Linked DNA regions of Homo sapiens: region 1 is linked to region 2. Evidence: fine-mapped expression QTL. A gene starts in region 2. The other region holds a variant in brackets. All regions are shown on one strand. Distances are from middle to middle.

Region 1 (5,368 bases), 30 kb after region 2:
AAATTGATATAATTAAATGAGAAATACACAATTGGAGATTTCAATACCTCATTTCCAATAATGGATAAGAACAACCAAACAGAAGATCTATAAGGAAAGAGGATTTGAGCAACTCTATAAACCAATTAGACTGAGCAGACATATACACAACACACAAACCAGCAACAACAGACTACACATTATTGTCAAGTGTACATGGAACATTTTCCAGGATAGACCATATGTTAGGCCATAAAGTAAGTCTTAATTTTTTTTTTTAAGACGGAGTTTTGCTCTTGTTGCCCAGGCTGGAGTGCAATGGTGCAGTCTTGGCTCACTGCAACTTCCACCTCCCAGGTTCAAGTGCTTCTCCTGCCTCAGCCTCCCGAGTAGGTGGGATTACAGCACCCGCCACCACACCCGGCTAATTTTTGTATTTTTAGTAGAGATGGAGTTTTACCATGTTAAGCAGGTTGGTCTTGAACTCCTGACCTCAGGTGATCTCCCTGCCTCGGCTTCCCAAAGTGCTGGGATTACAGGCATGAGCCACTGCACCCAGCAATAAATTTTTAAAACGAAATTATACAAAGTATCATTCCAATTACAATAGGATAAAATTATAAATCCATAGCAGAAGAAAAACTGGAACACTCATGAATATGTGGAAGTTAACGCACTCTCTTCTTTTTCACGTCAGATGGGTAACGTGCCGACGTAAGGGTTTGAGGGTGACACATCTCACGCATGTGCATGAACACCCAATCATCATTGTTCATCAACTACAAAAGGATCTTAACACTCTTCCCCTCCCCGACTCCAGACGGAGTCTTGCTCCATCGCCCAGGCTGGGGTGCCGTGGCACGATCTCAGCTCACTGCAACCTCCACCTCCAAGGTTCAAGCAATTCTCCTGTCTCAGCCTCCTGAGTAGCTAGGATTACAGGTGTGCACCACCACAGCTGGTTAATTTTTATATATTTTTTAATAGAGATGGGGTTTCACCATGTTGGCCAGCCTGGTCTTGAACTCCTGACCTCATGATCCACCTGCCTCAGCCTCCCAAAGTGCTGGGATTACAGGCGTGAGCCACCGCGCCCAGGCTTAACACACTCTTAAACAACCAATGGGTCTAAAAGGAAGTCACAAGGGAAATTAGAAGACACCTTGAGACAAAACAAAAACACAACATACCAAAACTTACAGCATGCGGTGAAATTGAAAGCAGTGCTTGGGGGAAATTTATAGCTGTAAACGACTACATTAAAAAAGCAGAAAGATCTCAAATCAATAATTTATCCGCACACATTTAGGAATTAGAAAAAGAGCGAACTAAACCCAAAGCTAGCAGAATGAAGGAAATAATAAAGATTACAGCAGAGATAAACAAAATAGAGAATAGAAAAATAGAGAAAATCAGCAAAACCAAAAACTGGTTATTTCTAAAGAACAAAATTGACAATACTTTAGATGAACAAAGAAGAGACAAGACTCAAATTACTAAAATTTGGAATGAAAGTGGGAACATTCCTACCAACTTTACACAAATAAAAAGGATGAGAAGATAATGCTTTATAAGAGAATGCACCATTGCATGCCAGCAACATACAGTGGAATATTATTCAGTCATAAAAAGGCCAGGTGCAATGGCTCATGCCTGTAATCCCAGCACTTTGGGAGGCCAAGGTGGGTGGATCACTTGAGGTCAGAAGTTCAAGACCAGTCTGACCAACATGGTAAAACCCCATCTCTACTAAAAATACAAAATTAGCCGGGTATGGTGATGAGCACCTGTAATCCCAGCTACTTGGGAGGCCGAGGCAGGAGTATTGCTTAAACCCGGGAGGCAGAGGTTGCATTGAGCCGGGATTGTGCCACTACACTCCAGCCTGGGCAACAAGAGGGAAACTCCGCTTCTTAAAAAAAAAAAAAAAAGGTATGGTATGCCCACACATGCTACAACATGGATGAACTTTGAAAACATTACAATTCCACTTATGAGAAATATCTCCAAAAGGCAAATTCATGGAGACAGAAAGGATAGAGGCTACCAGGGGTTAGAGGGAGGGGAAATGAGGAGTTAGCTAATGGATATAGAGCTTCTATTTGGGGTGATGAAAAAATTATGGAAATAGAGAGTGGTGATGGTTGCCCAACAGTGAATCGAACTAATGTCACTCAATTCTACTCTTAAAAACAGTTAAATTAGCATCAGTTTTGTTATATAGGTTTTACCACAGTTAAAAAAAAAATAGTATCTGTAAGGACCATTTCCTAGCCCAGGTTGGTGGCTGCCTTTCTACAGCTTTAGGGGAAGAGGAGCATTTTCTGCTTGTCTTGCTGAGGTTTCTGTTGACCACCAATTAGGAACTTGTGGATTTCAAGGTCTAACTCTGGAATTTAGTCAGCACTAAGAAAAATTATAAACAGATAAAATGTACAATATGGAAAGTGGGGGGGAAAAGCTAAAGGAAGAGTGTTAGCCAGTGCACGGGCAGGACTTTGCCCCCTCAGTCCCTTCTAGAGGCCCGTGGTCCACCCTTTTTCTTAGACGGGAATCTTTGTTCCTAACCATAGATTTCCATTGCCTGTGCGTTTTCTCTCTGGGGAAAGACTTGTGATGCTGTGTTAGGGTTACAGTGGGCCTCATTCCATAAGCATTCCTGCCCACAGTGCCCACGTCACAAGGCCATGGTGAGGTCAGGCTCATCAAGTGCTCAGTGCAGTGCCTGGGCTTGGACCCGGAAGAGGTGGGGGTGGTCCCGACTCTGCCCCAACAACTCTGCCAGAGCCATTGGGCACCCCCAAGGGGCCCACCACCCAGCACCCTTGGCATCCTCTGCTTTCTACCCAGCACCCTTGGCATCCTCTGGCGTCTACCCGTGAACCAGGA[T/C]GCCAGCATTCCTACAACTCCTTGTGTGATTGATGTCATCCAGAAACACCTTGGAAAGCCCCATCCCCTGTGCCCTGCACACTGTGGCCACTCGTCCTGCTGGAGCCTCATGAATGGCCAGTGAGTGCTGATTGCCAGGATAAGGGTGCTGATTCCTGCCAGCAAAAGACCTCCATACTCTCCCCCGATGGCCAAGGTGAAGCACAGGTCCGTGTGGTGCTGAGGTCCAGTCTCAGGTGATCACCAATTTACAGAGTCAGTCGTGTTGTTACTGACCCATCCTAAAGGGGTAGCTGGGCCCTGAGCCTTTAGAGCTCGCAGCCCCCTGAGGTGACTGTATTCTTTGTCCACAGTCTAGGATTTAGTTATGTCCCGGTTGGGCGTAGGTGTGTTAAACACGCAACACAGGAGTTGGGGTGGGGGGAAGAGGAAGGCCACTGAGACTGAGGATCCACAAGCACAGAAGGCCACAGCCTTACAATGAAAGTGCTGAAACATGTCCCCTGTGACAGTAAACATGCGCTGGCCCGAGCTCACCCCAGTGCTCTTCCAGGCTTCCTGGAACTGGGAGCCAGCAGGACCCCAGATGGCCTCCAGCCTGTCAGTATTTTCAACTTCATCATCTGGAGTCTGTAATGGCAAGAGCCAGATTGCAGGTGACTCTGAGCTGTCTCCTCCCTCTCGACAGCTGCAGGCATCACCCAGACACACTGCAGGGCTCACCTGTGCCATGGAGGCTTTTAAAGTAGATTTTCTGTTGCTTATAACAGAATACCTAAAACCGGGTAATTTATAAAGAAAAGGAATTTCTCACAGTTATGAAGGCTGAGAAGTCCGAGGTTGAGGTGTTATAGGATGGAAGGTCCTGACTGAGTTGTCCAGGTTCTTGGTGTATTGAACAAAGAAGTGAACAAAACTCACAAAGTAACAAAAGAATGAAACAATGACAGACAAAACAGGCCAGTCGCAGTGGCTCACGCCCGTAATCCCAGCACTTTGGGAGGCCGAGGTACCTGAGACCAGCCTTGCCAACATGGTGAAACCCCGTCTCTACTAAAAATACAAAAAAATTAGCTGGGCGTGGTGGCCGGTACCTGTAATCCCAGCTACTTGGGAGGCAGAGGCAGGAGAATCGCTTGAACCCAGGAGGCAGAGTTTGGAGTGAGCCCAGACTGTGCCATTGCACTCTAGCCTGGGCAATGAGAGTGAAACTCCACCAAAAAAAAAAAAAAAAAAAAAGACAAAGCAACAAGAAAACAGCTTACCAAAGGCACAGATTGATTGAAGCGAACGTGCAACCCACAGGGTGGGAGCGGGCCCAAGCAAACGGCTCAAGGACCTCCCAATTGCAATGCTTCTCAGGGTTTTTATAAAGAACACCCCAGATGCCCTTTAGAGGCCTCCAATTGGTTACACCCTATGAAGGATTAGCCTGGGACCAATCAGAGGCTGAAGTGGAGGATTGGCCCAGGGTCAATCAGAGGTTGAAGTGGAAGCTCCTGACTTGTTATCACAGCAGTGAGGATGTGGCCTGTGTGCTCCCCAATCCTGCCTAGAACTGGCTGCACCTGCTGTTCTCTGGCTTATGAGAACGGGCTGCACCTGCTGTTCTCTGGCTTATGTGAACGGGCTGTACCTGCTGTTCCTTTGCTTATGCCCCAACCCTTGGCTTCCCTAATTCCCTCTCCTCCTGCCTCAGAGAGGCTGCAGCAGGTGAAGGCCTTCTTGCTGGTGGGGACTCTGGTGTCCCGAGACGGTACTGGGCATCACGTGGTGAGGATGCTGAGCCTGCTCACATGCTAGCTCAAGTCTCTCTTCCTCTTACAAAGCCACCAGTTACCCTCCCATGATAACCCACTAACCCATGAATCCATGAATGGATGAATCCATCTACGGGGACAGGGCCTCATGATCCAGTCACCTCTTAAAGGCAGCACCTCTCAATACTGCCACATTGGGGATTAAATTTCAGCATGAGTTTTGGCGGGGACAAGCATTCAAACCGAAGCAGAGGGATGGCGGGTGCAGCCCAGAGGTAGAACACGCTTGGATCCCCACAGCCCATCCCTTCTGACGTGGCTTGGCCATCCAGGGATGTGATTTTCTGAATGACAGACATGACTGTGCTTTCTCTCAACAAGAGACGGGTGCCAGTCCCAAGGGTTGGGAAGAAGCACTGGGGTCCCAGGGGTTTCTCCCACAGTGCTGGAGGCGCCTGAGAGCTGACTCCACAGGTAGAAACACAATAATCCCTGTGGGTACCAGTGTGGCCAAGGAAGGGACACATCATTGTATCCTCGGGCTTCCGTTGCCCAAGAGAACAGGGACAGTCACTGGGAGAGGCCCACATTGCCGGGCAGCTCCATCTCACTCAGTCTTTGACAGGGAGTCCCCTTTTTACACCAGAGACCCCTTGACCAACCCAGGAAGCCCAGGGTGGCCAAAGTGGTCACAGCCAGCCAGGGTGTCCCCTGCTTCTCCAGGGGACAGGGTTCGTCCC
Region 2 (5,368 bases):
CGCCCTCCCCCGCCCTGGCTCCTGTAGATGATATAGTCAGATGGGAGGGAGCCAGGCCAGCCGCGTTGGGGGGTTTAGTGTGATGAATTCTTTACTCTTCACCACTCCAGCCTCCTTGGGGCCACCCCTCGCCCCAGCACCCAGGACCTTCAAGGCCAGAATAGTGGTGATTCCTCTATGTCCTCATGAGTCACTTGTCCTTCTGGGCTATAAAACGGGTGGGCGCTTGTTCCCAGGCCCATCACTCAGCGAAGGAGATAAAGAGAGCAGAGGAGATAAAGTCAGTGGCAGGCAGCTTCTGGACTTTCAGTTTCCGGAGGCATTGGGAGCTTGGCCCCAGAAGAAAGGGATGGGAGGAGGAGCTTAGGGCCGAGGGCAGTGTCTCGGTCACCTCTTTGTGGCCCTGTGGGGACCTCCTGCCTCGAAATACGCCTCACCCACATTACCCTCCCTGGCCAAACGGCTTGGAGGCTTCCTAAACAGCCTCTAGGGATCTCCATCCCAAATCAAATCTACCCATCTTGCTTCTTAAAAAAAAAACAAAAACAGGCTGGGCGTAGTGCTCCTGCCTGTAATCCCAGCTCTTTGGGAGGCCGAGGCGAGCGGTTCACTTGAGGTCAGGAGTTCAAGATCAGCCTGGCCAACATGGTGAAACCCTGTCTCTACGAAAAATACAGAACTAGCTGGGCATGGTGGCAGGTGCCTATAATCCCAGCTCCTCGAGAGGCTGAGGCAGGAAAATCACTTGACCCCAAGAGGCGGAGGCCTTAGTGAGCCGAGATCACACCACTGCACTCCAGCCTGGGTGACAGTGAGACTGTCTCAAAAACAGCATTTATCACATAGAGCTGATTATTAAAATACTGATTTTAGAAATTAGAAATTCAGAGAAGTAAAATGAAAACCAGTAGAGCTTCCACCCAGCTGCAACTTACCACCATAATTTTTGTGAAGTAGGCCCTTCTAGTCGTGTGCACATGGGGGTCTTGTTCTGAACGGATGAACTGCCGCCTCACTCCAGTCACAGTGGAAGTGTTTCGTGGGTGTCTGAGGATTGGCACTTGGGAAGGGGGCAAGATGTGCTCGTGGAATGTGCTGTCTGGTCCCGCCCTCTCAGTTTACAGATGGAGAAACTGAGGCCCAATAGTACGGACCAGACCTGGGGAGGTTGGCATGGCCAGGGCTGCTGGCAGCAATTGCTGGCCTCCATGAAGACTGAAGGCTGAGGCCAGGGCAGGCCCAGTGATGAGTGAGGCATGAGGAAGGGTCCCATTCATTCATCCATTCTCCTGGCCCTGCTGTTAAGCCCCAGGCTGTCTTCCTTCCTCACTGGCTTCCAGAAAGAGTAGTTGAGGATGTCCCTGTCCCTGCTTCCCCTTCAGCCCCAGCAGCCCCACTTCCACCCTGAGACCAGGGATGTCCAAGCCACAAGCAGCCCCAGCTGACAGGCCACGCAGCCATGTGCTCTGCCCAGCGTTGTCACTCTTGATGCCTTCCTCCTTGTCAGATGCCTCTCAGCCCCAACCTTGGTGCCTTCCGCTCTCCCCCACCTCCCTGGCTTCCCCTCCTCTGAGGGTGTCTGTAAGGGGATAGTGTGGGGCTTTGCCCCAAAAAGGTAGGGCCCCACTCTCTGACCCTTTCCCCCACTGCACACACAGCCCCACACTCAGGATTTCCAATTGCACTGACAGGGTCACTGAACACATGGTCAGCCTCTCCAAACTCCGCCTGAGCCTGTAGTCAGGTGCAGGTGCTCAGTGCTGAGTGCTTCATGTCCATTACGTAATGTCATCCTCCCCGCAACTGTTTGAGGAAGTCATTTTCACTACCCAGATTTTCCAGATGAAGAAACAGTGAGGCTCAGAGGGGTTAAGCAACTTGTGGAAGGCCACAGAGTTGGGGAGAGGCTTTGCTGGAATTCGGGGTAGCTGACTCCAGGGCGGCTTCCCCACACATGATCAGCACGTACACATTTCAGCCCTACGCAACACACGCACTGCAGCAGCGTGACACGCAAACGGTGCCTAACCGGGGTACCCAAGGCCCCACGACACACGTGACAGCCGGTCCTCCGGGAGACCCAGCCAACGCGCACCCCTCGACCTCCCCGGCCCCGCCCTCTTTGTTCAGACCCCGCCCCTCCAGGCTCCCGGTCCCGCCCCGGGTCTGACCTCGGCGAGGGCGGGGCCGCGGGCGCGCGCACGCACGCGTCCCTCGGACTCTCCGGTTCCGCCCCTCCCCGGCCCCACCCTCTTCCCCTCCGGCCCCGCCCCCCAGCCTGACATCAGCAGGGCCGGGCCGCGGGCTCACAGCGGTGGCAAAGCCCAGCCGCGCGGGCCGCGCCGCCGCCCCCGCCGCGCGCCGGGCCGGCCCCGCGCCCGCGCTGCGAGCCTTCCATGGTGCAGCGCATGTGGGCCGAGGCGGCCGGGCCTGCTGGCGGCGCCGAGCCGCTGTTTCCGGGCTCCCGGCGGAGCCGCAGCGTGTGGGACGCCGTGCGCCTGGAGGTGGGCGTCCCCGACAGCTGCCCGGTGGTGCTGCACAGCTTCACGCAGCTAGACCCCGACCTGCCGCGCCCGGAGGTGGGTGAGCTGGGGCGGTCGGGCGGGGGGTGCGTCGGAGCCTCCCCACCCGCGGCAGAGCTGGGCAGGTCGGGGCGAGCCCCGGACGGGGCCGGGCGATCCCAGCGGGCCGCCTCCCTCCTCTCTCCTCCATAGGTGGGGGTCGGGGCCTTCTGCAGAAATCAGCCAGCAGGGTGGGCAGTGGGGGCTGCCGCCGCGCCCCGTCCAACAGTAGGGACCACGGCTGGGGTTTTGCGCCCCTCAATACCGTTCCAGGGCCTGCTGTCACCAAGGCCGCTGCAGCCCAGGTGGACCTTTTTCTGCGGCACTGTCCCTGTTTACATCGGTGGCCTGTGCCTTATTTCACTCAGTTCCCACCCAGGGCCCGCAGCGCGTCGTTAGCCTTTACGATGCAGGTGTGGAACAAGTGGTCGGGAAGGCCAAATCCTAGAATCCTCAGAGGTGATGAGACCATAGGGGCCTTCCAGACAGACCCTACTTGGGGCAGATGTGGATCTGGTGACCAGGGACATCGGGGCTGCTCAGAGCGGGGTGGGGGGGGGGTCGGGGGATGGGGTGGAGCAGCAGGCCTCCAACACGTGGGACCAGATGTCCTGGTGGTGAGGGGAGGAGGGTGGCCCAGGCCCAGGGCGGGCAAGACTTGTTTCTGCTTAACTGGAAAGAGTGCCAACACCCTGAATCGGTAAGGACTGGGTAGGATTCAGAGAAGGGAGTGGTGTACCTGTGATGGATGGAGGGGAGGGTGACTAGGTGAGGGCGGGGGCTTGTTTCTCGTGTGCCCTGGGTCTCTGGGTGGTGCCATCTGCCTCCCACCTGACTGCTGCTGACTACACAGCAGAGGGAGTGGAATCCAGAGATGCCCCCCTCGCCCTGCTCTGCCTGGGCACAGGGCCTGCACAGAGGCCATTCCTGGATCGGGGGCTCAGGGCCCATCAGAGCTTTGGCTGGGCTGCAGCCTTCACAGTGAACCTCCTGAGTCCCCGTGCGGCATCGTGTTGCCTTGCTGCGTCTCCAGTCGCTTCATGGCTTTAGACTGTGGCGCGTTGTGATTGCTGGCGATTGTTAGCCTGAGTCTCGTGCCTCTTGGTGTCCCGGTACCTAGACAGGGCCTGGATGCGACTTGTTTCTCCGCCCAGTGTTGGGCAGAGCTCTTGGTGGGGGAACACCACACGCCTGAGAGACCCTTTCCTCCTGAGCTTGGCAGATGGCCGGACCAGACGTGTTCCCTCAACCCTCATCTATCCAGGGCTCTGGTCCTCATTGGCGGCTGGAGAGGGACCCCTGGGAGGGTGGGGGTGGGAGGCTGACACCAGCCCAGCGCTCATCTGGCTTTCATTACCTCTGGCAGCAGCTCGGGCTTTGTGTGCTGGGAGGGTCCGGCGGAGCGCTCACAGTGGCCGTGCAGGTTCCCTCTCTCCGTCCCTGAGGAACTGAGGGAGAGGCAGAGCTGAGCCCCACCCCTGCCTGGGGGTCTTGTCTTCCCTCTCTCTGGCCCTGGCGCTCCTTGCCCAGCCTCAGCACTGAGATCCAGACCTCGACTGCTATTTAGAAATCAAAGGGGAAGCTTCTGGCTGGGTCAGGAAAACCAGGATCCTGGCAGGAGAGGAGGCCACTGCCGGAAACTGAACACAATGACCATTTACCAAGGGCCCAAGGGAGGGGGCGGGGAAGTCCCTGTCCCTCCTGCCAACACCCCCCGTCCTGGGGCTGGTTTCCTGGTGTCTATGTGGCCTGCCAGAGCTGACGCTGCGCACTTGGTCCCTGTCCTCTCTGGAAACCACCAGACAGTTTCTGCCTTCCCCCGCATCCCTGTTTCCCTACCTAGCTTCCACCCGGTGCTTCCCTCTGGGCTGCCAGATCTCCTCACATCTGGGCTTCCGCTTATCTTCCCGATTCTAAGCCAAGCCACCAATGACCCAGCTTGGCCTGCACAGTTCTTGCTTTCTGGAGGTGACCTGGTCCGTGCCCCCATCTCTGGACAGGCTGTTGCTTTGGCCAGACAAAAAGTGCAGGTTGTGGGCCACCCCCTCACTTCATCTGCCTTAGACCAACCCTACAGAGTAGGTGCCAACACCACCTTCTAGGAAGCTAGGGGGTCAGAGAAGGGAAGTCTCTGACCTAAACACCCGTGCAGCCAGCAAGGGCCGCAGCCAGGATTTAAGCATGGGCTGTGTTCTCTGTGGCACCTACTGTGTGCAGGAGCCACCAGGAGTCAGAGGAAGCCCAGGCAGCCCAGAAGCCCTGAGGTCAGGTGAGCAGTAGGGAAGCTTATGGCTCAGAGGAAGGCAAAAGTGCTTTGGGCCACAGGACGCTGGGGAGAGCTACCTGGAGGAAGCAAGCCCAGAACTGGACCCCACAGGTTTAAGATAACAGCTAATAAGAGCCAGCAGGTTTTGGGGAGGTCCTTGGCTAAGTAATTTGCATCATCTCCTTTTGGGGTCAAGACTGTTAAGAGCTCACTTGACAGATAAAGTCACTGAGGCAACAGAGGTGAATTAGATTGCACAGAGTGACCAAGCTGGTCAGTGGCAGGGCCAGGATTCTGACCCAAGGCCTGAGGGCAGTTGCAGGTGGGCTGGAGTGAAGAGGGCTTCTCTGTATTCACAGGGAGCATCTCCCTTCAGCCTCCCGCGTCTTCCCACTGTTTGATCTCTTGATCACACTGTGTGCAGGTCTTCGGTTTAATCCCCAGGGCTCATGAGCACTTTGACACTGAAGACCCCAAGGCAAAGGGCCTGTCCCTGTGTGGGTGTGTGTCCCTGCATGCATGTGTACAGACTGTGGTCTTC

Evidence for each region. PIP is the estimated chance that this variant, and not a neighbour inherited with it, causes the effect.
Region 1: its variant is the best candidate, but not a certain one, in a credible set for the expression of RALGDS in skeletal muscle (GTEx, PIP 0.85).

What each region holds. Positions count from the first base shown.
Region 1 is chr9:133,088,454-133,093,821 of GRCh38, reverse strand. LOC124902343 (small nucleolar RNA U13) reads right to left here and starts at 770; the gene lies at 671-770. RefSeq lists an enhancer at 2,833-3,334. The variant T/C (reference allele first, on the strand shown) is at 2,869.
Region 2 is chr9:133,118,183-133,123,550 of GRCh38, reverse strand. RALGDS (ral guanine nucleotide dissociation stimulator) reads left to right here and starts at 2,311. Exons shown (of 18, transcript NM_006266.4): 1 at 2,311-2,579. The coding sequence starts at 2,397. RefSeq lists a silencer at 2,022-2,731 and an enhancer at 2,711-3,407.